Linked DNA regions of Homo sapiens: region 2 is linked to region 1. Evidence: fine-mapped expression QTL. Tissue or cell type: B cells. Region 1 holds a variant in brackets; the other region holds the start of a gene. All regions are shown on one strand. Distances are between the middles of the regions. Region 1 overlaps CD86 (CD86 molecule). Region 2 holds the start of CD86 (CD86 molecule).

Region 1 (2,917 bases):
CAAACCAAAGTGGGGGTGATAACACAGAAGAGACATTTTAGGAGCGAATCTCGAATTGAGTAAGTGGTTGAACTCATAACTTTTCAGTTCACCTCTAAGATTCTCATTACATTTCCAGGAATAAGGAGAAATAAAGGAGAACATCTGGACACTCCATCGCTCTCACCCTGAGTCAGTTCCTCTCATTTTTAACACAGTAGACAATATGGTACATTTAAAGGATCCCTGTCTGGGTAGAGTCTGCTGAGCTGGCTACAAGTGATCCAGGGCTTCAGAAGACATGGAGAACAGCAAGCACTCCTACAGCTTGGAAGGGTGGTGTAAAGGTGGTAATAGTTGAGCTGAGCTTTGACAGGTGAGTCAGACTTGGTCTCAGAACTGTACCCTGCATGTTAGAACTTGCACGAGTTGATTTCTGTTATAGCAGATGAAGTTCCACCCTGTATTGGTTTTAAGTAATTAAGTCCACTCATTCTGATACTCCCACTTATGAGGGCTGTTAGCCTGGGCCACTGCACTGTTTAACAGTCTTCCTCTGAGAAACGCTGTCTTCCTTTAACAATAACAATGGTTAATTTCCTAGAACTCAACGTGGTAGCTATCGTCCTCTGTCCTTGAAAGGCTTTGCAAGCTTCCAATAATTCTTCCCTAGACAGATTCCTGATAATATATAACCCTGCATCCGAGGCATCTGTTTAATGGGTCTCAAAGAACTGATGCTTCCGAAAGAACCACTTTTTAGTGTTGATTGAGTTTCACTGGATAAATATTTCAGCCATATTTTTGATACACACATAACATCAAGTATAACCTTTTTGATGCTTTTCATTGGTATATATTCTTTGACGACTTTCTGAGACACAATCAAATAACAGTTTTTAAGGACACATGGAAATGGAGGAGTGACCATGGAATTTTTACAGGACAGTAAGAAAAGCTGACTGGCCTGCAGCAGAGGTTGTCTTTGGATAAATAATGGGAGATTAGTTTCTATAAGTAAAGCAAGGAGCAAGATAGCCTAATAGGGCATGGAAAGTCAAATAAGGAATTCATATTTAATTTAACAGAAAATTGGAAGTTTGGAATTAATAGTTTGGGAGCAGAAAAATGGTGTAATGACAGCTTAAAGAAAATAAGCCTGTCAAGAGGTGACGGCTGGTATCAGGGTGATCAAGAAAGCCAGTATTACAGGCTCGTCGACTTGAGATGGTGAGCCTGAAGCAGTAAAGAGGCAGTCGGCATGATGAGGAAGGGATGGGTGTGAGGGCTGCCTCGATGGAACATGAACACTTCTTGGTGTCTGGTGGACAGAGGACATGACTGGAGGTGGAGACGTCCTCCATCCTGAGCTCTGTTTTCCTCAAGCTCCCACCAGCCATGTCTCCTTCTAGCTTAGGCTGGATTTTATGTCTGACTTGGTTTCCAGTCTCTCCTTGGAGCAAATCCCCCTTAT[T/C]CCCCATTTGTGGAGATTTTTCTGACCGAATGCTTGTTTTCTTTCGTGAGTTGTTCTTTCTGAAACTCATTTGAGAGCACAGTGTTTCCATACAGACATGAGGAGAGCTGCATCAAGGATGAGTAGGTGCAGAGAAGAAATGTCTTCGCAGATTTAGAAGGAGCAGAGGGTGCTTTTATCCACCTTCCAATATTGTAGGCAACTGAAATATTAAAATGAAGAATGCGTTCCCCTCACTGGCCTAGAAGAAGGAGCATAGCATGGCGATAGCATTTAGCTTTTCCGGTCCCCCAAGAGCAAATCTGTGTACAAGACACGCCTAGTTCTCCGAGTTGTATCTAGAATCGAAACTTTCTGAATCAAGGCACACCCTATTTCAAACTATTGATGAATTTGAGAACGATTTTTTTTCCTTTTTGCCAAAAAGGTAAGGATCATGCAAAGTTTCACAGTGCTTCTTCTAGTCTGTGCTCATCCACTCGAGGGCTCTGACTGTCAGGTATGAGGCTCATAGAACTCACTAAAAGGGAGCCATGCCCATCCTGGTCCCCTAAGGTAGCCTGATTCTTGTTTTCTCAGAAACAGCATCATGGTCAAAGAGAGGAAGCCAACATTTCAGGGCCACAACTTGAGGGGCCTTCTCTCCCCATACTGTGCACCAGTCCTACCCTGCTGCTTGGAATTCCCACATTACTCATTCCTTGGGCTAAGGCATTTTTTGAAAGCCCCTGTTAAAATGCAAATGCTAGCTGGAAGGAAGAGGGTTTTTTTTGTTTGTTTTTAAGCCATTAGGCATTAGGTTCAAGTTAATTTATCTAAAAAGGACATGGAACTTAGAAAGGAATCATATCCGTCCATGAATAAAGGAGGACCGATAGGGAACGAGATGCTTCCCGGTGTTGAGGTCTCAGGGCCGTGATGGGGAGGTGGAAAGTGCTGAAGACACACTTTTCTTCCTCCACACATATTCAAAATGGCGCCTATTTCCCAAACCTCAGCCCGAGTGTAAGCCAATGTACAGTTCGGAAACAGCACTGTATAGGAGAAGAGAGGAGAGATAAGGGCCAGTAAAGGGCTGTGTGCCCAGCCTATGGCCCTGTCCTTTCTCCCACCCCACAAATACTCTTACCTGCCTGGCCATGAAAGGTGGATTGCCAGCACTAGAATGGACTGTGGAAAAATGCCCAGGGACCTCTCTGCCACTCTCTGTGCTTGCTTTTGCTCTAGTTTTATCTCTTTGAAGCTTCAATCCCCTGGCCTAGGGACCCCTAACCTCAACTCCCACCTCAGTCTGATTTTTGAAACATGGTATTTCAACCTTGATTTTTCTGCTGAAGAATCTGGCTTGGCTTATCTCTTCATCTTTCTCATGTTTTCTCCCTACCTGCCCTAGCCTCAACTCCATAAAATCCCATCCTCACCCCCACCCAGGAAGAGGCATATGAAATTCAAGAAGAATAGACT
Region 2 (2,917 bases), 25 kb after region 1:
TATAACGCTTCAAAATTCCACTGGAGCAAAAGGAATCTTTACTGGAAAATTAAATTTTAATCTTCTGAAATAAAAGCAACAAAGCTTTTTCTCAAACCAGTAAGCACTGGGTAGATGAAAGTTACTTCGATTTTCAAAGAACAGTAATTATAAATACATAGTGACGGCCGGGTGCGCGGTGGCTCACGCCTGTAATCCCAGCACTTTGGGAGGCCGAGGTGGCCAGATCACAAGGTCAAGAGATCGAGACCATCCTGGCCAACATGGTGGACCCCGTCTCTACCAAAAATACAAAAATTAGCCGGGCGTGGTGGTGGGCGCCTGTAGTCCCAGCTACTCAGGAGACTGAGGAAGGAGAATCGTTTGAATCCGAGAGGCGGAGGTTGCAGTGAGCTGAGATTGCGCCACTGCACTCCAGCTTGGCGACAGAGCGAGACTCTGTTTCAAAAATAAATAATTAAAAATAAATAAATACATAGTGACTGGCGCCAGCTGCCACCACCCAAGAGAAGGGCGGGTGTGACTCCTTCCAGGAAGTCTCCACAGCATGGAGAAACCTTCTGGCGCACCACGAAGCGGGCAGGAAAGATTTTAGCTCTACCCCTTATGAATAGTGTGAACTTGGGCAAGTTTTTTAAGCCACAGTTACCCCATCTGTCAAAAAGAATGATGATGTCTTTCCAAAAGTCATTGTGAAGAATAAAATTCAATGAAATAGCACTAGTAAAGTACCCAGCACATCATGCATGTTCAATACATGGTAACTAATTTAATCACTCTACCTCCTTCCACTACCCAACCCTGCCCAGAATCTCCCATGGCCTGATTATGACATATTAACTGAGTTTTGCATTTTCTCCTTATACCTCTTTTTTCTCTTTCTTTTTCTTGATCTCTCTCCCTCTACCTTCTCTATCTCATTCCTCCACCCTCAGACCAAACTGACCCTGGTAGACAAAAAACATATTCCCTGTTATTTGTCATTCTTATGCAGATATTTTAAAAATTCCTGATTCTTCACTAAAATCAATGACTGTAACATTCAGTATTTGAATAACAGATTTACAAAACCAAAATTAGGCACCTAAAAATATATATAACTACCACCAATGAACTGCTTTGGGCATTGCAAATAATTCTTGCCTTTATGTGCCAAAGATCTTTTGTAGAAAAAGAAAGCTTCTCCACTTAGGAACTAAGTGAAGGACACACATCAAAGCACCATCTTCAACCTCAGCCTTTCACTGCAGTCACAACTCATAACTTCTCTGCAAAGAATAAGAATTATTACTCACCACTGGGGATCCATTTTGGCTGCTTCTGCTGTGACCTAATATCTGGAAATGACCCCACTCATCCGTGTGTCTGTGCTAGTCCCTGTTACAGCAGCAGAGAAGCAAAGCTTTCACCCTGTGCAAGCCTTCCTCGGCAATGACTGTATACCTACCCAGCTAACTTTCTTTAAGAGAAGCTGTTCCTCTTTTCTCTACAGATTTTGACCACACTTGAGGAAGAAATTTAACCCTTTCCTTGCAGTTTAAACTCATTGACGTAGGTCTATATGTATTAAAGAATATATAATTCAGTAGCTTGAGTTCCAGACATGACGTTAAGATGAGCCTGAATAAAAAATCTCCCCTCTTGAAATTCCCTCAAAAAACCTAGAAAATAAAATAATTAGAAAGAGAAAACAAACCTCCGCAGCAACAAAATAGAATAAAGAGGCATTCTACAGATTTTGATAAGATAATAAAAAGTGATTTATTGTGGATGTGGATTGGGAGTGAGTAGCCACCTAACCCTGCCAATTTCCACAACCAAAGTGTGGAGAGTTTCACTGAGCTGGGGTGGGGGGATGGGAGATGGGGAGATGTTCTGTAAGGACTGCATAACCAAGGAGGGCAGACAGAAGCTACTGCTTTTATTATTTCATTCCTACTATAGCCAAGGATTACATTGATGAAAGCGAATATTCTGAAACAGAAGTCTGAAAAAAAGGCAGCATTATAAAATTAATAGATGTCCCTAAGAGACAAACATAGAATTAATCAAGCAGAAACTATACTAGAAGATATTTCCTCGTATGAATTAAAATGGGCATCATCTAGAAACTCAAACTGTTTAGTGTATCAAAGCAAAAGTTATGAAAATCGATTCTCATCCAGACAAATCATTTTGAACATTTTAAATTCCAAAGGCAAAGCTAAAAACAAAATGAAAACAGAATGACTACAGAGAAACAAAAAACAACTTGGCATCTTACTCAACCCTAAATGGCAAAAAACAACAGAACAATATCTGCAGAATTTTGAATTAGCATTATCTACCTAGATAAGATGCCAGTTAAGTGTCAAGTCAATAGAAATATGTCACCAAGCAGGCAAGAAAACAACAACTGCAACAGAAATACCACCACCAAGACAGCCTTCCTAAATAAATTATTTAAGGATATATTCCAGAATAATAAATGAATTAAAATAGCCTTAAAATGGAGAAGCCATGGCTGAAAACACCAGTGCTGAGCTTTAAAGCAAGTTAAACATGGAGAAATAAGGCTAAATAATTATAAATTAGTTTAGACCAAAATGCTAAATAAGAAAAACTTATTAGAAGTAGATTACATATATTATTTCAAGGAAGTTTAAAAATAGCAGATGACATCACTGCTAACTAGAGCAAGGAAGCAAAATCAACACAATTATTAATCTTCAAATAAGAAGATAGAACAATGATTATTTTATCAACTTTGATAATTTCATCTGGATTTGAGAATTTTAAAAAATGAAGACAGCAATAATATAAGTTATCTATCTTCAAAATTATTGCAGAGCAGGAGTGCAAATAAAATAGTATTTATAACTACATAACACATCAGAAATAAGATGAGATAAAAAAATCCATGTAAACCTCATTTGTT

Evidence for each region. PIP is the estimated chance that this variant, and not a neighbour inherited with it, causes the effect. A credible set is the group of variants that fine-mapping cannot tell apart.
Region 2: CD86 starts here. The variant in region 1 is the best candidate, but not a certain one, in a credible set for the expression of CD86 in B cells (Fairfax 2012, PIP 0.73).

What each region holds. Positions count from the first base shown.
Region 1 is chr3:122,079,244-122,082,160 of GRCh38, reverse strand. The region is part of intron 1 of CD86 (CD86 molecule); the gene reads right to left. Among named protein-coding and RNA genes, the nearest start is that of CD86, 25 kb to the right of the region's middle. RefSeq lists enhancers at 258-307, 328-477, 508-597. The variant T/C (reference allele first, on the strand shown) is at 1,454.
Region 2 is chr3:122,053,882-122,056,798 of GRCh38, reverse strand. CD86 (CD86 molecule) reads right to left here and starts at 1,437. Exons shown (of 7, transcript NM_175862.5): 1 at 1,296-1,437. The coding sequence starts at 1,309. It also overlaps a transcript of ILDR1 not described here.